3 linked regions of the Homo sapiens genome follow. The protein of the gene in region 3 interacts with the protein of the main gene of each other region in a pairwise test. Each region holds a gene or a part of one and is shown on either strand. Other genes may lie near its edges.

Region 1 (6,508 bases), on a different chromosome or scaffold from region 3:
TGAATTACATAACTGATCTCTCCTGAACAAGAAAAGGAGACATATTATCACACAGTCCACCCCTTTCAGATGGTAAAAGCCATTTTGGATATCTGTAGGCAGCTGATTTCACTCAGTGATTTGTCCATTGCTTAGTCAAATCCCGATTATTTAATAATGGCTCAGCTACTACCTGGAATTATATGTCTAGCCCCCTCTAAAACACACTGGGTATCCAAATTCTAATACAAGCTAAACTCTTTCAAGATAAAAAGTTTTCAACATTTAAGGGCTTTGTTTGCCAACACATCATACACATAAAATTCTGAAAAGGTGGATACTATGGACTTGAATCAAGTTTCCTCCCTGCTGTTCCAAGTATCCTCTTCTCTTGACACTTCAGCATTAGCAGGCAAGGATAAGCAACAATTTTTACCTCTCCAAGATTACCAAATCTACCTCTCCAAAGGCACAAAATATTTTCAGGTTTAAAAACAAAACAAAACAAAAACCCTGACAAGATAATATTATAGCTCAGTAAAGTACTTTTGTGCAGTTAAAGCATTAAAAGCATCAGCCTGTTTTATTTTTTGACAAGTTTATTGAACAGTATTCAAGACTTCATCTTTATAAACAAAAACCTCTGCTGAGTGATGCCAAGGCAGTATTTGCTGGCAATGTTGTGGCCATATTGGCAACAAGCCATTTTGTTGTGTTTGGTTTCTAAAGTCTGGACTACTATAGAACTGCCAGTAAAACAATTTAAATGTGGCAATTTTGCAAGGGTGGAAAATAATTTTTAAAGTGACCACTTCCAGAAATTCTTTCCAAAAGATTTGACTAGCAGCAATTTTACATTTTCTTTACTCATTTCCCGAGTGTTCTTAAAATTGATGAGATTTTACACTTGGCCCATACCTGTACACAACCACAGACTCCAGTAAAAGGGAGCTGGAATTTAAGGCTTTCACGCATCCTTGTTTTTATGCAAGGCTGACTATTTCCACCTAAAAATGTAATGTTTGCTTACTTCCATACAGTCCTAGATTTTCATCCAGTGGGTTAAGACTGGCCTTAACTACACTGAATATTACTACCTGAAATTTTAAATAAAGTTTCCTAATCGAATTTTCATTGTTGATGCTTTGACAACTTGGAGTACAAAGCTAGGAACTACATTTCACTTAACACTGTTTCATTTTTTAAAAAGCCACTAATAATAATTGTACATCCAAACTACTGTGTAAACACAGAACACACCTCCAAATTATGCTTGTGAACTAAATGTTTCACTAAAGTTCAGAAAAGTTTACAAATTTGCTTATTTATGACATACATTTGTAGATTTCTCTAATCCTTTAAATCAAAAGAAAAATGAACACCAATAAAAAAAAAATCAGAAGGGAGAGGAAAAAAAATTAAATCTAATGGAAAATATTCTCTTCCATTAATGTCAGAGTCACCAAAAACAGACAATAAAATTTACACATAAAATTGAAAATATCATGATAGTGTTTACAAATGCACACAACTTTGAGCAAAGCTTTACAAATCCTTCATACCATACAAAGCAAATGAGAAAATAATGTCAATTCATTTCTACCCCAAACCTAGTTCTTAGGAGAAAATTCGCAGGAAGAGAGGTATGAGTAGTTTCACAGAATACATTTTCAAGAATTTTTTAAAAACTGAAACTCCAATGCCCAGAACAAGATAAACAGTATCCTTAGCAGTTAGCACTGTTAATAAATCTCAGATACACAAAAATCAAGTTCCAGAGGGCAAAGCATTTAATTACAGTCCACAACGAGCACTGTTGTGATTCATATAAAACATAGTTCTCTCCAATTTCTACACAAACCGCTCTTTTAATTTATTTAATTAGATGAACAATGAAATCGTTTTCCTTTTCAGCATTTATCTAAGATGTAGAAATAACAAAGTAGTTGCAATAAAGTGTATGAAATATTTAATAAGAATGTACGAACATATAACCAAAATAAATTGTGAAAAAAGATAAAAGACTTTCATCTTCAAACAACCCATTTTTCTAAAATGAAAATAGCTTTCCAATGGAGAAAATATCTGTGGCTGAAATACAACTCTCAAGCAGTGCTGAAGTTTTTTGCATTGTCTTTGGAATGAGAAATGATTACTTAACATTAACTTAAATTAAACAGCATATACAAACGTTATATTGCTTTTGAAATTGAGGAGGCAGTATCTAGTGATCGGTCAAAGCAAATCTGTATTCATGAATTATCAAAAGACCCACAACATAGTCACCTCTTGAGTCTAAACAATCCTTCTCTTAAACAAAAATCCTGTACTGTCAATCCTCTAAGATTGTAGTGATAAAAAGCCTTTTCAAATCTTATCAAATGAAACTGTTGCCACTCTTAAATTACACAACCGCTGTATTTCAGTGTTCCACTGACTCACAACACCAAAAAGGCACTGTATATATATATAGTTTAATAGGAAATACTTATTTTAAAAGACTGACCCCTTTGTAACTACGCTGATTTGTAGGAAATGTTGGGGATGTTTCAAACGAAGACAAAGGGGCCATGTAAAAGATAAAATTTGGTTTTCATGATCTCTCATCTATCTCTCCTTCTGTATTGTTTATAATGTGACACATTTTCAGAGCATTGACTAGGGAAAGTAACCATAACTAGAGCCCTGTAAGGCCAAGTTTTTCATCACAAGGAAAGTAACCATAATTAGAGCCTTTTATGACAGTGAGAAAATTTGTTTTTCATATCATCTCACCTATCTCCCCTTCCGTATTGTTTATAATATAATGTGACACATCTTCAGAGCACTGACTAGGGAAATCATAATTAGAGCCTTGTAAGGCAAGTGTTTTCATGACAAGGACACTTACCAACCAGAACTCATGTGGTCCTCCTGCCTTAGTGTCCTGAATACCAAAGAAAAGAGTATGAAAGGGTCAAGAATCTCAATTTTCTCCTCTGGCGGCTGCACTTGTACTCTGTATGAAGACTTTTAGTAAACAGGCTCCTGATCGAACAACTATGCCAAAAAGCCTCCAAATAACAGGACTAACACGTATCAATCTACGAACCAGCATACGGATCTTTTATTCTATACTACTACTGCTAACAAAGATAATTTCAACTTCAGTTTTAAAAACCTAGATATAACACTTTCTTATGAATGGGCCCCTCTTTGTTTAAAGGCCAAAATTTCACATAATCGGGACAGGAGGAAATTGATACTACAATTAGTCCATATGAAAAGGACTTCAAATCAAGTATCTTAAACACATTATTAAAAGTGGTTTCTGGTTTTCGATACCATCCAAACAACATGAACAATTTTTAAACTGACTAACCTAAATCGTGGCGGTCAAACCAAAAAGGCTCTGGTAGATAAAGGACTCCATAGTTTATTTTTATGGCAAAAGTCTTATTCCACACAGTTTTAAGTGTGACATTAGAAATCAAAGTTTGAGGTTATAGCACAAACGAAGTGTGGACTTTTATATTTAGGGAAAAAAACCAACAAAACAGTTCTGCTCATTTACAAATGAGTCAATTAGACAAACAAAGCAGCAACTTCTGAAGCAGGACTGTCTATACAGCAAGGACCCTTAAGAAGCAATAAAGGTACATACAATGAATCTGTATACAGAAATTTTATTCAATTTTAAAAGAAAATGAGGACTTTAGACAAAGCTTTACCCTATAACAAAGCAAATCTGTCCAGCTTTAAACCAAATTCTGAGAGTAGCCAACTTCTATTTTCAGCAGCTGGCAAGAGCACCCTCAATGAGTTCTACTGACATTTCTATTTTCTTCATCCCATATGGTATAAAACAAAACCAATCTAGACTCCTTGATAAGCTTTATGTGGTCATTTGAGTTTTACAAATGGTTTCTCTAATGGTATGCCAAAATCATTTATGTGTTCTCTCCAGATAGCTTTACTGTAACATACAGCAATGTTTATCCTGGTGAGTGAGTCTTCTGTAAACAGTCAACCAATGCTCTATGTTATGGAAACCAAGCTATATGCAATTGAAACAATCCACAGGTTCTAACCTGGAAATACTAGGAAAACAATCTGGATGCATTAATCACAGCAATATGAAGATCTACCCTATAAAAAATGATGTGAATGGCTACCCTAATACAAGTTTTACTTTTCTTGAACCTATAGGCCTGTCATTTAAGTCAATGACAGCAGCTGTGGCTTCATCCCGAGACTCAAAGGCCACCATGGCTTCACCTGTGGGCATACCTTTTTCATTGTATTTTAAACACACTGAGCCTGGGATTACTTGATAGCCATAAAAGAAATCTAAAATCTCATCAATAGACACAGTAAAGGGCATGTTTTGCACTTTAATTACTGTCGGTCCTGGTTTTCCAGAACTAGATGCAAAGCCAGGGGGACCACCAATATGGATTGGGCCAGGGCCGGGGCCGGGGCCGGGGCCAGGCCCAAAAGCTGGTGGCCCACCCAAATGCCCAGGGGCACTTCCAAGACCAGGAGGGCCACTTCCAAACCCCGGGGGACCGCCTAAGCTACCAGGGCCATTTCCAAAATTCTGAGGGCCCCCTCCAAATCCCGATGGCCCACTTAAATTGTTTGGTCCACCTCCAAAACCCGGAACATCCAGTCCTAGACCAGGCAAACCACTGTTTCCAACTGAAGGCATACCAGGCCTAGCATCACCAAAGGCCCCGCCTCCTAATCCTGGAGGAGGGATTGGTGGCCCAAAGGCATTTGATCCACCAAAATTACCAGGAAAGTTAAATGGAGGCCCATTATTGGCTTCCTTTGATCCTACAGTCAGGAAGGCATGCTCTTCACCTCCTGCACTAGGTATTCCTGCACTGGGCATTCCCGCACCAGGCAGTCCTGCACTGGTTATTGCTGAACCAGGCAGTCCTGTGCTGGGCAGGCCTGCACCGGGAAGTCCTGCACTGGGCAGTCCCACACCGGGCAGTCCCGCATTGGGCATTCCTGGAACTGCAGGATTACCTGGCACAGGCATCTTTAATCCCTTTTTTCCTTGGGCAGGGGGATTTTTCTCAATCTCTCTCATATCTTCTAGGGTAACTACATGAACAAAAGCTTCTCTCCCATTAAGTTTTTTACGGTGTAAGCGTTCAGACTTACGTGCATCATCTTCATTTTTAAACTGAACCAATGCCTGTCCTAGACCTTGCCCATTGTTATCAACAAGAACATGTACAGCATTTTCATCCACTGGGATTCCTTCTAGGAACTGAAGAACATCCATCTTTGTAATGCTGAATGGAATATTTGTTATGTGGGCACAGACTTTGGCAGAGTTGACATCCCCCTCTGGATTTAGTATCATTTCCCTCTGGTCATAGCTGAAGTTCTGCAGTCTTTTTCGAATCATATCTATCTTTTCTAGCATACCTTTCTTAGTAATTGGATGAACTTGAATAAAGCGATTGCCCATGTACTGTTTATGACGACACAGAGCAGCCTTATAGTCAGCCTCATTTCTGAACTCTACAAAGCCTTCGCCAGTTGCTTTCCCATTGGGTCCATAAGCTATATAAATACTATCTTCCACAATATCCAGCTTTTTAAAAAAATCAATGACATGTTTGTTTTCTGCTTCAAATGGTAGCCCTTTCAAGTAAACACAAAAACCAGCCTCATGTGGTGATCTTGACCTTGATCTTTTCTGCCCACTGGGCGATTTTGACCTGGGAAGTGTCTGAGGAGGGGGATGAGTTTGTCCAGAAGGTCCCATATTTTGCTTAAAAGTGATATGGCCTCCAGCAGCTACCCACTGTCTTTCTGTGGCAGGGCTAACTTCCACATAGCGTTGAATCATCAGCATTCTGTTTCGTTTCAAAGCTTCAAATGTATCTTGAGGGGAGAGAAACTTAACCAATCCATTCCCATTATTTCGACCTACATGATCTTTCAACAAATGCACTGCATCAACACGGAGCCCATGAAAAAAATCTCTGACATCATTTTCCATTGCAGAAAAGGGCATTCCATGCACACTGACATACAGATCATCAGGGTTGATGGGGAGTGGCTTCACACTGCTCTGAGAGTTCATCTGGATAGGGTTAACAGGATTCAACGGACCAAGAAACATAGGATTCAGATTATTGTTCAAATTCATAGGTGCTCCAGAGCCATTCATTCCAGCAGGTAGAGGTGCCACAGGTGGCGGATTCAAGGGCGGCATGCCCGACATGGGTGGCAGTGGGGTCATGGGTGGCACAGAAGGAACTGGGGGAATCGGGGGCACAGGAGGCACAGGAGGCAATGTAGGTACTGGAGGAGGAACTGGAATTGGGGGAATGGATGGCATTGGTGGCAGAGATGGCATCGCTGGAATTGGAGGAATTGGTGGCGGCGGGACTGTGTTCATTGGAGAGGCTGTGCTTGGAACAGTTGAGCTAAACGTTGGGCTCCCAAAGGAAGCCCCCATATTTGGAGGAGCTGTTCCTACGCTGGCTGTGGAAAATGTCTGTATGTTTTTGTTGCTTTCATG
Region 2 (7,032 bases), on a different chromosome or scaffold from region 3:
AAAAAACTGTTTTTTTTTCCCTTCTTTTTCATAAAAAGGATACACCTGCAGCTGCATACAATATTTATGTTCAAATACAAAGGTTCCAAGGTCCCTGATGTTAAGAACTCCACCATTAACTGAAGTGTAGGTAGAAAATATGACTTAGGTATGTACCTGCCAGTCATACGTATTTGTGAAGAGAAAATGACGGAAGCAATAATAGCATTTACCTTACAGCACTGCTGTTGGCATGAAAGCTACTCTACCTATTCTGTAGAGTATTTAACAATAATCACCAGCTACTAAGTGCCAGGTCCTGCGTTAGGGGTGCAGATGGTATTGAGATCCCTGTTTTACAAACCAAGAGATGGAGATTCAGAGAATAAAGTCAGCTGCCCAAAGGCACAGAGCTAGGGAGTAGCCGAGCTGGCATTCAAGCTCCAGTCTCTCAGGCTTGGAAATCCATACTCCTTCCATTTTGCTAAACAGTTCTTACCTGATGTTCTTTGGGGCTGCTGATGAGTCTGAGTAAGTAGGCCTAGATCATGATCCCAGTCCAGGCTCAGCTGTGTGTAGTACCATGTCATCATGTATGACAAGGTCTGACCCCCCCGACTAGCACAGCAGTCCATCATCATTACGGGGGAAAAAAGAAAGGGACCAGAGGGAGATTCTCAGGCATGCAAGGGGTCCCCTCCCTTCTCCTGAGGACACAATGGTCATCATTAAGTACCTGATCTAGGATATAGTTGCGTTTCTTGCGGGCAGCAATCTGGATGAGGCGGTTGAGGCACTGGGTGGCCTGCTGGATCAGGACATCCCAGCGGCCAGCATAGTTCCGCTGCCGGCGTAGGCCCATCACCTGCGGGCAGGAATTGGTGAGGGGTGAGTGATTTTAGTTGCAGGGCAGCACTCAGTAGGTTGGAGGTGAGTAAGGAGAGTCCAGTGGCTGGCCTTACCCGCATCTTATCCATGATGGCATTGGTACCCAGGATGTTGTACTTCTTGGAAGGGTTGGAGGCTGCATGTTTGATGGCCCATGTGGTCTTGCCAGCAGCAGGCAGGCCCACCATCATCAGAATCTACAAGAACAAGACAGGGAAGGTGTTGCGGCATGGTGGTATGGCACCACTTGGCTCGGTGGTGACTGTGAGTGTGACTCTGGACCTCTGAGCTGTGGCTGCCTCTACAAAGCGGAAGCAGTAATACCATCTACCTCACAGTACTGGTATCGGGATTCAAAAAGATCAGGCTTGTCAGACTCTGAGCACAGTGCCTGGGACAGGGTGAGCATTAAGTCAAGTGCTGGCCAGGCACGGTAGCTCACGCCTATAATCCCAGGACTTTCGGGGGAAAACAAAAACAAAAAACCAAGTGCTGTCATCATTAGCATTTATAGTATTTTGTTTTTTTGAGACAGGGTCTCACTCTATTGCCCAGGCTGGCGTGTAATGGCCCAATTACAGCTCACTGCAGCCTTGAACTCCCAGGCTCAAGCAATCCTTCTACATCAGCCTCCAGAGTAGCTAGAACTACAGATACAAACCATCACACCCAGCTAATCTTTTTCTCTCTTTTTTTGGTAGAAATGAGAGTCTCCTTATGTTGCCCAGACTGGTCTCAAACTCCTATACTCAAGGGATCCTCCTCCCTTCTTGGCCTCCCAAAGTGCTGGAATTATAGGCATTTGCCACCAAACCCAGCCCATTTACAGGATTATGTGACCCATTCCCCGCCCCCTGCAATAGCCCAGGGAAGGCTGTGTACTGGGACTGGCCCCATGGAGTGGGTAGAAGTGGTACAACTTTCTTTAAGTATGAAATAGGAACAGAGCTGCACACACAAGGACATGAATTGTATCTAATCAGTACATTTAGAATTTGGTAAACACAGATGCATCTTAAATGCCCGACTAGGGGGGAGTGGCGAGTTTGTAAGGCCATTAAGAATGACGTTCATTCCCTTGAAGGATTTTTAAAAAAGAAAAAATGATGTTCAAAGAGAGGTTTTTATGTGATGGGATAAAGCTCACAAAATAATGTGAAGTGAAAAGAGCAGGGTATCATAATGCTTATACCATAGAATCTCAATGATAAATGTTTGTGAGCATAAAACAGGCACTTAGACATTAAAAAGAACAGATGAACTCCAAAACTCTGCAAGTAAACTTATTTGTAGATGATGGCATTATGAAAATTTAAATTTTTTACTTCTTAATTTTCTAGAACAAGCATAAATAACTTACACATACAAGAAAAATATTGTTTTAAGAAAAAAGACACTAGTATAGCTCTTGGAATCAAATCTTCCCAAAGGCCATTTATCTTTTGATAGCTCTGGGTGAGAGGTGGAACTTACTCAACCTCCTTCAAGAACACTCGGTGGGCCAGGCTCAGTGGCTAAAAAAGTTAGCCTGGCATGGTGGCATGTACCTGTGGTCCCAGCTACTCGAGAAGCTGAGGTGGGAGGATCACTTGAGCCTGGAAGGTCAAGGCTGCAGTAAGCCGTGATCGCACCACTGCACTCCAGCCTGGGTGACAGAGCGAGACCCTGTCTCTAAAGAAAAAAAAAGAACACTTGGTGGCACAGTGCACTCCCCAAGAAGCGCCTAGTGTCCTTTTCTGCTGTAAGAAAAGCCTCCTTTTCCCCTATTCTGGCCTCACTTAAGAAGAAGATGCAATCTTTCTGAGATTTAGGTAGCCTCTCCGACTTCAACTTAGGTCACACCAACACCCCTCACCTCACACTCAGAGCAGCTTTTCAGCTCTGAGTCCAACCCTGAGGAGCTGGGACAAAGTGGCCACTTGCCCCAAGGCTACTCTCGCAGCAAGTCTGTGTGTGTGTGTGTGTGTGTGTCTCCTCTGTCTTGGCAGCAAGGTGGCCACCAATACATTCTGGCCCCACTCACCTCACATTCTGCCTTGCTCTTTGGTCCAACGGTGCCCCGGATACGCTCACTAAGGGGAAGGTGCTGGATGAAGGTAAACCCCGGGAGGACAGAACAGTAGGGCTCTGCTCTCTGTCCGAAGTTGAACTCCACTGCGCAATTCTTCACCAGGACATGAGGATAGAGGGCCTGACCCCCCAAGGCTTCCTTCTGGATTCGGAAAGCAATGCCCATCCACTTTCCATTCTTGGTAAAAGACAGTTCCACGTCATTTCCACATTCAAAATCCTAGGAGAAAAAGCCAAAGGAATATGATTGCCAACTCTTGCCATAGGCACTGGGAGTCAAATGTGAGGACAGTAGATGCAGGGAGTAGAATGTGGACAGCTTTCCAGATTGAAGTGCATCCTTCCCCAACATACAGGTAAGCTGGGCAGCATCAGTGAACATCTCAGAGAATGTCCAGCCCAAAGTCCTCCTTGCCTAAGACCCCAAAGTTGGTGGATATGAAGCAAGTAAGCAAGAGTTTTTTTTTTTTGTTTTTTTTTTTTTTGAGACAGGGTCTCACCCTGTCCCCCAGGCTGAGTGCAGTGGCACAGCTAGGGCTCACCGCAACCTCAAACTTCCAGGTTCAAGCAATCCTCCCACCTCAGCCTCCTGAGTAGCTGGGACTACAGGCATGTTCCACACCTGGCTAATTTTTAAATTTTTTTGTAGAGACAGGGTCTTGTTATGTTGCCCAGGCTGGTCTTGAAATCCTGGACTCAAGTGATCTTCCCACCTTGGCCTGCCAAACTGTTGGAATTATAGGCTTGAGCCACTGCACCTGTCCTAAAGCAGGTAATTTTAAGAAGCTCCAAGTATTTGAGTCTTGTGCCTAGACTGAGATGAAGACGAAGGAAAAGGTGGTCCAGTCCTGTCCTGAAAACTGATGAGGAGACAGGTGCAGTGGCTCACGCCTATAATCCCATCACTTTGAGCAGCCAAGGCAGGAGGATGCTTGAGGCCAGGAGTTCAAGTACAGCCTGGGTAACAGAAAGAGACCCCATCTCTACAAAAACAAACAAAAGAAACCCAGAAAGGGCAGTCTATGAATATAACAGATGAAGGAAAGCCACCGCAGGGCCTTTTCGAACTGAGTTCAGCTTGTTCAACATGTTCCCTGAGTTCGTACTCTTTCTGATACACATGTCTGCATAATCTGGGACCGACAGAGCTTAGCGACCAGTGGGGAATGAGACAAGGACACTCTATCATAATTCAGTAAGATGACCTACCTAGAAGCAAGTTTCTGAGGTTTCTCAGTTGCTTGTATATAAGCCTAGCAGTGACAGAACACAAGGTCAGATTGGCTGAGGCATAAAAGATGAGGGGGAAGTAATTCAGGAACAGCTGAAGAGCCATGCAGGGACCACATTCATTTATTCTGTAACAACTACTTATTGAATTGCTAAAGTTAGTAATTAAGATCCCCCCTCTTTTTGTTGAGACGGAATTTCACTCTTGTTGCCCAGGCTGGAGTGCAATGGCGCAATCTCGGCCCACCACAACCTCCGCCTCCTGGGTTCAAGCGATTCTCCTGCCTCAATTAGCTGGGATTACAGGCATGTGCCACCACGCCCGGCTAATTTTGTATTTTTAGTAGACGGGGTTTCTCCATGTTGGTCAGGCTGGTCTCGAACTCCTGACCTCAGGTGATCCACCCGCCTCAGCCTCCCAAAGTGCTGGGATTACAGGTGTGAGCCACTACGCCTAGCCTATGATCCCATTTTAGAAGGTGGATGGCTTCAGTTCTACCATTTACTAACTTGTGGCCTTGGTTAAGTTATTTCATCTTGTTTCTTTATCAAAAAAAGGGGGGCGGGGTAATAATATTTTATACAGCCTATGTTTATTCTAACTGTTAAATGGGCTAGTACATTTAATACACAGTGAGCACACAAGGAATGTGAGCTATCACTGCAAAATGTCAGGCACTGTGCTAGAAATAAGGGGCTGGGACTGAAGTGGTGGGAGGGGACACGGCCTACCTCGGCATGTGAGGGACTCTAATTTACCGCAGGAATTTGAACTTGATGCTGGTGGCAGAGCAGAGTGTCTGACTTATTTTGAATAGAGGAGCAGCCTGCTCAAAACTGTGTTTTGGAAACATTGCTTTGGCTGCAGGATACGAGAGGCTCTTTTTTTTCTTAGTGTTTTTTTGCCTTTTTAAAATTTATATTTTTAAAACGTTTGTTAAATATTTTTCTAAATGCCCATCTCAGAGAAGAAAAGGCTCAAAACTTGAGATTAGATAGCAGACTGAAGCAAAATACACGGTTCGCTTTCTGATATGAAAGTATAATTTCTTTCTCTATTCAGGTGACCACCTTGGGAATTGCCCTTCAAGAAGCGACAGAAGCACCCTCCCTTGAGGAGCTTCCTCATTAACCTCCTCAGTGCTCACAGGGCACAGCTCTGTGTCAGAGGCCCTCATGCCTGTTCATCTCTAAGCATGCACCCACGTCAAGACCATGGAGAGCGGCTGGATGTGGTGGTTCACGCCTGTAATCCCAGCATTTTGGGAGGCCGAGGTGGGCAGATCATGAGGTCAAGAGATCAAGACCATCTTGGCCAACATGGTGAAACTCCGTCTCTACTAAACATACAAAAATTAGCTGGTCATGGTGGCGAGTGCCTGTAATCCCAGCTACTCAGGAGGCTGAGGCAGGAGAATCACTTGAACTAGGGAGTTGGAGGTTGCAGTGAGCCGAGATCATGTCACAGCACTCCAGCCGGGCAACAGCAAGACTCCTTCTCAAAAAAAAAAAAAAAAAAAAGACCATGGAGAGCAGGTATGACTGTTGGTGTTAGTTAGCCTTCCTTATGGCCACCAGCTTCACTATAGGAACTTCCCATAATGCACAGAAACCGGCGCCCTCAACCAACCCATCTACCACCAACAGAGCCATCTGTCCAAAAGGCAAGTGGAGTTGTGTTGTTGTTCCTGCTGAAACACTCCTGTGTCAGTCCCAGGCCTAAAGACCCAAACTCCTGAAGCCTGGCATAATTCAGAGCCTGCCATTTTTATAGCCTGGTGTCTCACACCTCTTTCTGTTGTCCCTAGGCTCTAAGTATCATACTCTTTATGGTTTGCTGAAATGGGTTATTCTGTTCTCCACTTGGAAGGCTGTTTTACCTTTTTGTTTTGCAAATTGAGGACTTGATATTTGACACCAATGTCCTCCCCTCTTGTTCCAGGAGACCAATGATTTTTACACCCCCACCAACTCCTCACCCTGAGCCTTTTTAAAGTTGTGGTATCTTCTGAACAAAGAAAACTATATAAGGAATCTTAAGACTGGATGCAGAGATGTTCTGGTTGAAGCAAGAGTCAAGGCCTAGAGTTCCATACTGCCACATACCAAAAGAACCTCATACTCTGAAAGAACAGACTTTGGCAAACACTGTCACACAGTGACAAGTTAAATTACTGCAACCTGTTTGGAGTGTAGTCTTGGTGGTAGCTATGAAAATTTAAAAATATACCTTTGACTTAGAATCTAACTTTCAAGAAGGAATACAACTACATTCCCACAAGAATGCAAAATTCTATGTGCAAAATGCTCATGCCAGCACGGAAAATGTGCTCCAATGGGGAAGTAGGAGTGGCTAAATTGCACAGGAGATCCATATGTGGGGCTACAAAAAGATCTCCAAGTTACTCCAGTAAATGGAAAAAAGACAAGCCGCATTTATCTGTTCCAGGAAACAACTTTCACAGCCACTAACAGGAAGACGGGCTAAATTAAAGCAGGGTACCCAAACCCCTGCATCAGAATACTAGACAGCCATTACAGTCACTAAATACAAAGCTGCAAAAGTAACGACATGTCCACCAAAGGGAGGCGCTAGGTTAAATCAATTATGGTACAGTCATACAATGACTACAGACAATATAAAAGTACAAAGAAGCTCTCTTGGTAGTACCATAAAAAGATCCCCACCAAGGCCGGGCATGGTGGCTCACGCTTGTAATCTCAGCACTTTGGGAGGCCAAGGAGGGCAGATCACCTGAGGTCGGGAGTTCGAGACCAGCCTGACCAACATGGTGAAACCCTGTCTCTACTAAAACTACAAAATTAGCCGGGCATGCTGGCGCATGCCTGTAATCCCAGCACTTG
Region 3 (7,630 bases):
ATTGAAATAACAAAATACCATTTCTAACCCATGAGACTGACCAAAACTTAAAAGTCTGATACTGTCAAGTGTTAGTAAGCACTATTGTGGGCTACTGACAGACCTGTGAACTCGTAAAGTCATTGTGGGGAACAACTGATCATTATCCAGTAAAACTGAAACTTGCAATCCCTTGCACCCTGCAATGCCATTACTGGAGCACAGAGGCATGGAGACGGATGGTCACTACAGCATTGTTTGAAATAGAAAAAACTAGAAACAATTTAAGTGTCCAACAAAAAGGGAATAAGTAAAATGGGGTATATGCCTACTGTGTAGCAGTGAGACTGCAACAGGCCCATACACATATCTACAAATAGGATACTTTACACTTTCAGAGAAGGAACACACTACAGGAGTACCCTACAGTGGCAGGATTGAACCAGCATTACACACATAACAAGGACAACTTCCCCAAAGGTAAAGTTATATGAAGAGGCAAGCTACAGGTGACACTGACAGTATGACACCACTATGGAAACTCTAAAAAGCCCACACAAACAATATCATATGTCATTCAAGTATATCTATATAAGCCATAGAGGTATAAAAATGGTGCAGTGGCACAAAACAGACTCATGATTCACAGTAGTGTTTGCCTCTAGAGAGAGAAGAGGAGGAATAGGACTGAGACTGGGGAACAAACTTTATCTAGAGTGTCGCTTTTTCTTTTTTAAGAGATGAAGTCTCAGTTTATTGGCCGTGCTGGAATGCAGTGGCTATTCACAGGCACAATCATAATACACCACATCCTCAAACTCCCGGCCCCAAGTGATTCTCCTGCTTCAGCCTCCTGAGTAGCTGAACTACAGACACACCCGACAGTATTTTTTACATATACATATATATATACACACACACACACACATATATGTATATACACACACATATATATAGCTTAATGTACACTGTTTAATGTACTTGATGTTTACAATATCATTCTGGAAATGTCCTAATATTTGTTAAATTTCTCAAAAGAAAAATAAGATGTCCACGGAATTAAAACATTTTATGAATAATTAAAGAAATTAACGAAAGATTCTGACTATAAATAAAATTCCTATATATAAAAAGCCAAATGAAAGCTCATTGGAATGAAAGAGAAAAAAAGAAAACATTAAAATTGACATAACAGATACGGAAATGCTTGATTTTTAAAAACAGTATCTATTATTCAGTTGGTGACTTTTACATAATCAACAGTCTTTACAATTTGAGGGGTATTTTTTACTGCTAACTTGAACGAAACTACATGAGTACCCCAGGCAGAAACAGTATGAATACATAAATCTTTTCTAATGTGTCCAACTTGCCTTCAATATATTGCTGGTATTATGCCTGAAATTTTATTGAACAGCTCAGAAAATATGCTTGCTTTGCCAGTTCACGTACCAAAAATGGAACCCTAAATGATGCTGATGTTTTGGGGCTAAGTATTTCCTTAGAATTGTTATGGTGCCCAATGCAGGATGTCACCTTACAGGCACTGCGTTTCCTCTGCCTCACAATCTTCACATTTAAGCATTCTACTGCCGGTGGCCACCTTCCAAGGCACAAGCCAAGCTCCATCACATCTGTGAGCTGACGCTTAGCTCTCTGTAATGCTCACATTCATTAAACACAGATTTTTAGGAAGTGGAACGGAAATTACCTGCGATTCACTTCTGGGACAGTCACCTGATGTTGCCATAGTTCTCTTAGGCTCTGCCTCATAACTGCTGATTTATTTCATTTTCTTTTCCATTTCTACTTTTAAAAAGAGAAGGAGACACAAAGTACTTGTTACATTGCTTAATAATTGAGTTCACTTAACTTCTAATGTGCATGATGTCCTCTACCAAATAGAAGTAAAATGTGTATGTGTGAAGATTAGTGTAGAAATGAAAATTTACAATACTTTACAGAGACAAAAGCATTTAAAAATCATAAACTTCAAATAGTGTGTTTTCTTCACTAGTCTGCAAGGTGTTAATCTTGTTCATTTGCTGAAGCCTGTTAGTTTCTGTTAGATCAGGTGTCGACTTAAGGCAATAAATCAGTATTCATTAATTTCTTAGAAGTGTGATAGCTTTAATTCCAATTAAAAGTCCCTACCTGGGACCTTACAGTGTTTCCACTAACAGGAACCAAGGTCTGCATCTTCCAGTCTTTTCCTTCTTCTCAATTCGTATTTTTCCAGTGATAGTGTAATCCACACACTGCTCTGGGATCAATGTGTTTTTAAAATTGCATAGCAATTCTTTGTTTAAAATGCATGCTTCACTTCTAAATCCAGACTTGAAGCTTATTTTTGTGATATTCGTAGTTACAAATGCTTACTGATTTGCATAATTATATTTTCATTGGAAGACCTGGGTCCAAACTGGGACGGGGTCGGAGTGGAGGCCGCAGTGCGCGCAGGACCCTGCCCTCCTAAGATGCCCTCGGGAGGAACAGGATCATGGAGGGTTGGAACAGGTGGCCAGTGAAGGGGGGTGAGAAGGGGGCAGGAAGCGAGAGGGCCACGCGTGGACGCAGGGGCACGAGAGGGTCAGGCTGGGACAGCGCCGCGAGCTTCGGGGCAGGGGCCGCCAGGCAGGTGGGCGTGGCCGCGAAGGGCGTGACAGAGATGGTGGTGGGGTGGGCGTGGCCGTAGAAGGCGCTGGACGGCGGGAGTGGCCGGGAAGGGGTGCGGCACGCAGGGAAGGGTGTGACGGGGACCGAGCTCCCGTTTGGACGCCAGGGAAAGTGGCTGAGATCGCGAAGGCGCTCGGAGGTCCCAAAAGGGGGCGGAGGCCTCTGTCCGCCAGCGACGCACACGCAGTGCGAGGACGCCTCACCTGGCCTGTCCTTCCTTACGTGCAGTCCAGCCATCTGAGCTGCCCATCAGGACACCTACCTCAATCGCGTTTCTCCGCTGAGTTCCGCGTCCACACCGCCAGCGCGGAGGGGTGGACGGTCCTTTCCAGGAGCCTGAGCCACCGCCCTCAACCCGCGCAAGCGCAGTGCACGCAGGCCGTCAGCCGGGAAGGCCCCGCCCAGGGCCCGGCGCCCCGCGCAGGCGCAGTCCTAAGACGTCCCCCATTCCAGGGAAGCCAAGCCACCGCCCTCGACTTGCGCCGGCGCGTCGCTCACAGATCGTCTGCAGCTGGGGCTGCGCCCCGCGCAGGCGCACTTCACATCTGCGCGTCCCGCGGTCTTGCGAGGCGAGGCCAGGTTCTCCATGTGTGGAGCTCGTCCCCAATCGCCCAGCCCAGCCGCGGGGTTGGGGGGCTCGGCTTGGGGTCCGACCCAGAGGGGCGCGGGGCAGGAGTCCGACCTGGGGCGGGGGGCGGGTTTGGGCCATTCACGGCTTGGGAAGCGACAACCCCTACGAGCCACAAAATGGCTGGGGCTTGGGGGACCCCCCACCTCCTCTGTCTTCCCGCAAATAATTCAGTTAACTTTCCCATCCGCGCTGCGCAGTGTGCGCCCTCTGCCTTTCTTCTGGATAAGTGGAAGCAGAATGATGACGTTTCTGTTGTGGGGAGAGGAAGTTTGGGGTTAAGGAGAAATGGGTGGCGCTAATGCCTGTAAAACATAAAATTCGAAGCCCCCCCTCCCCCGCAGCCGTCTGACTGGACTCCCTCCTTTACCAGGGGACCCTGAAGTTCAACCTGAGAGACTATTCTGGCCTCGAAGGGAAGTAAGAGTTGGACATGCCTTTTTACACTCCTCCAGCATTAACATCAAGGCAGACCTTAAGTCTGATTTAAAAAAAAAAATGTGGAAGGAAAATAAATTTGGGGGCCGCAAAATCATTAAGCTTAAAAGGAAAAGTCAAGTTGGGAACTGCTTAGGGCAAACCTGCCTCCCATTCTGTTCAAAGTCATCTCTCAGCTCACTGAGATAAATGCGTATCTGATTGCCACCTCTGGAGAGGCTAACCAGAAACTCAAGGGAATGCAATGATTTGTCTCATATTTACCTATGACCTGGAAGCTCCCTCCTGCCTTTGCTTTGAGTTGTCCCGCCCTTCCGGACCAAACCAATGTTCATCTTACATATATTGATTGATGTCTCATGTCTCCCTAAAACGTATAAAACCAAACTGTGCTCTGACCACCTTGGGCACATGTCATCAGGGCCTCCGACGGCCGTGTCATGGGCGTGCATCCTTAAATTCAGCAAAATAAACTTCCTAAGTTGACTGAGATCTGACTCAGATATTCAAGGTTCACATTTTGGTAACCACAAAGGGATTCTGAGTAGAGGTGCCACTGACCTTTGACAAATCTGTCAGTCCTTAGTACCAGCTTGAGCTATCTTTATGGCTCAAACCAATAGGACAATTTGCTGAGGCCTGGAAGCACCCCCTCCAGAGAATCCCTGATCTACCCAGATTTAGTCAAGATCTAGTTTATTTTGCTGTACAACTCCTTTTGTGTGTTGGGCGGGGGTTGGGGGGCGGGGTGTGCTTTACTCTCTTCCAACATAAGGAAGTAGTAGTTTTTTCCTGCTTCCATGACAATGGAAGGCAGGTAACTCGTTTATGGAGTTTGAGCTCGCTTCCCACAGGAAAGATGAGGGGTTTTCTTCCTCTGCTTCTAGGGTGGTAGAGAGCAATCTTCAGCCTCAGACCCATCCCTAGGAAGTAACTGAATTGGGGTTTGTCTTGGCTATTAAGATTAACAACCAGCTGGTCTTAATTTCTCCTTACCATTAGTGTGCTCAGTAACCTTATAAATTGCCCAATCCTTCGTTTCGCTTAACTGGTTTTTTTGTTGTTGTTTCTGTTTTTTGTTCTTTTGTCTTTTTCGCATTGAGTTTGACGAACTCTATCTGACTTGATCGAAACCAAAGGAAAGTTCCAAATTATGAGAAGTGAGGCCTCTGAAGTGGCTAAGTTTCAACCCCTCCCCACCACACACACACACACAAAAGGTGATGTGGTGGGGGGAGAAAAACAGCTAGCAAAAGGAAAAAGAAAAAAAAAATTTATTTTGACTACTTAAAGGGCTTTTCTTACATAACAAGGCCACATTTTTGCTAGCCAGACCAACCAAAAAGAGTAATGTCTGTCACCCCACACTGCAGTTCCATACCTAAGGGTTCTGCCTTCTTTTTTTCCACCACCACAGCCTGGGTTTAGTTCCTAAATTAAGCCCTTTCTGGTTTGATACTTGGTACTTCTGAAATAGCAGCAATTAGTCCTAGCTGAAATATGATAATGAGATTTATTTATTTATTTAGACAGAGTCTGGCTCTGTGTTCCAGGCTGGGGTGCAGTGGCACAATCTCAGCTCACTGCAACCTCCACCTCCCAGGTTCAAGTGATTCCCATGCCTTAGCCTCCTGAGTAGCTGGCATTATAGGCCTGCACCACCACACCCAGCTCATTTTTGTATTTTTTTGGTAGAGATGGGGTTTCACCATGTTGGCCAGGCTGGTCTCAAACTGGCCTCAAGTGATCCGCCTACCTCGGCCTCCCAAAGTGTTGGGATTACAGGCATGAGCCACCATGCCCAGCCAGTAATGAGATTGAAAAAGTTTATTTTTAAGGAGCTCAATGGTTAAAAGCTTAATTAAAAGCTAACATCCAACATATGTGTGTTGTGTGCCTGTGTGTGTGTGTTTGTATTTAAAAGGCTTCCAGTTTTGTTTTTTTTGTTTTTTTCTCTCCTAGGACCTTGTCTTTTTGAGCAAAAGTTTTTTTCTTCTTAGTTGACTGGCTTCTGTTTTCTTCATTTACTTTTGTCGTGTCTTCTTTCTCTTGCACCCTCTGCTTCATGGGAAACCTAATATAGTTTGTAATACCCAGGGTTCCTTACAGAAAACGGAGAAGGTGCCAGATTCCCCTTGGAGGAGAAACCTCTGTTTCCTTATGGAACCCCAAATGTGTAAACAGACAAGTTCATCTCAGCTTTTTTTTTTTTTCATCTCAGCTCTTAAACTGCTTGCTTTTGTATTGTGTTACCTAATTTTTTTACTAAAATAGTTACTGCAACAGAGGCTACTCTGGAGTTCTTAAGGAATAGTATAGTTTAGACATGTAGAAATGTCTTTGTTGAAAAAAGTTTTTTAAGTGCACTGTAAAAGCATGATGTAGTCTAACCTCATAATAATTTTCGCTTTTTGGAGACCCAGGATTCAGTGTAGGGTCTGCCCAGAGCTCAGAGATCCAGTTAAAATATAGGGAGTCTCTGTCTAAATAAAACTGGTCTCCTTATACAATCCTATGATAGATTTTCATAATTTTATGTTTGATTTCACATCCATTTTTAATCTCTCTTTAGCACCACCAGACTTTTTCCTCTCTGTACCTTAAAATGTAAATTTTGCTATCTAATTTTTCATCTAATAGTTTCCTTTAATATGCAGATTTAGGGCTATTTAGCCGGCAACTGCCAGGGCAATGACACAGATGATCAAGAGTTTGCAAGTCTAAGATAGAAAAAAAAAAAGAGGTCTTAGGAATCTATAAGATGTACTTCTATCGGTATACCTAATACATCTATGTATTTATGTGTTGCGTACACAATGTTTCTCTATTAAAAAATATAGAAGAGCTATAATTAATTGGCTTAAAGAAAAATAAAAGTGCTCAAATAAATTATTTATTTATTAATTAAAGAAAAATAAAAGTGCTCAAATAAAATACTTTATTAGAAAAAGGGAAAGACTAGTCAAATGTTAAGTTTACTTAAAATCTTTAATAAATAAGTTAGCTTTAAAAATAGTGGCAAAGTAATTTAGAAATGTCTTAAGAATTGCCAGCATACATTTTTGTTTGCATTTATTTATCAAGCAATTTCCTACTTATCCCTGCCAATTACTATAAGGTGTCAACATTTGGCATAGGGGTTACAAAACTATAAACCCAGCCCCAAATGGAAGAACATAAATGGCCTGATGGAGCTGAAAAACACAGCACGAGAACTTCATGAAGCATACACAAATATCAATAGCCAAATCAATCAGGTAAAAGAAAGGATATCAGAGACTGAAGATCAACTTAATGAAATAAAGTGTGAAGATAAGATTAGAGAAAAAATAATGAAGAGAAATGAACCCTTCTCAAAAGAAGACATTAATGCGGCCAATAAACGTGAAAAAAAACTCTTCATCACTGGTCATTACAGAAATGCAAATCAAAACCACAATGAGATATCATCTCACACCAGTTAGAAAGGTGATCATTAGAAAGTCAGGAAACAACAGATGCTGGAGAGGATGTGGAGAAATAGGAACGCTTTTACGCTGTTAGTGGGAGTGTAAATTAGTTCAACCATTGTGGAAGACAGTGTGGCGATTCCTCAATGATCTAGAACCAGAAATACCATTTGACCCAGCAATCCCATCACTGGGTATATGCCCAAAGGAATATAAATCATTCTACTATGAAGACACATGCACACACGTATGTTTATTGCAGCACTGTTCACAATAGCAAAGACTTGGAACCAACACAAATGCCCATCAGTGATGGACTGGATAAAGAAAATGTGGCACATATACACCATGGAATACTATGCAGCCATAAAAAGGATGAGTTCATGTCCTTTGCAGGGACATGGATGAAACTGGAAACCATCATTCTCAGCAACTAACACAAGAACAGAAAACCAAACAC

What was found. The genes of interacting proteins can lie anywhere in the genome.
Region 1: the proteins of PRMT2 (region 3) and RBM12 interact in binary tests that used the Homo sapiens proteins (3 or more experiments, as listed by UniProt).
Region 2: the proteins of PRMT2 (region 3) and HNRNPUL1 interact in a two-hybrid assay, tested with the Homo sapiens proteins (2 studies listed by BioGRID and IntAct).

What each region holds. Positions count from the first base shown.
Region 1 is NC_000020.11:35,648,395-35,654,902, forward strand, and holds the end of RBM12 (RNA-binding protein 12), read right to left. Parts: coding exon 4,130-6,508; 3' UTR 531-4,129; downstream 1-530. Other genes in the region: CPNE1 (copine-1), read right to left, coding at 5,134-5,148.
Region 2 is NC_000019.10:41,288,370-41,295,401, reverse strand, and holds part of HNRNPUL1 (heterogeneous nuclear ribonucleoprotein U-like protein 1), read right to left. Parts: intron 3,158-7,032; coding exon 2,891-3,157; intron 1,065-2,890; coding exon 942-1,064; intron 845-941; coding exon 716-844; intron 1-715.
Region 3 is NC_000021.9:46,631,051-46,638,680, reverse strand, and holds the start of PRMT2 (protein arginine N-methyltransferase 2), read right to left. Parts: upstream 3,008-7,630; 5' UTR 2,918-3,007; intron 2,243-2,917; 5' UTR 2,134-2,242; intron 1,786-2,133; 5' UTR 1,730-1,785; coding exon 1,691-1,729; intron 1-1,690. UniProt on the Homo sapiens protein: Arginine methyltransferase that methylates the guanidino nitrogens of arginyl residues in proteins such as STAT3, FBL, histone H4. Acts as a coactivator (with NCOA2) of the androgen receptor (AR)-mediated transactivation.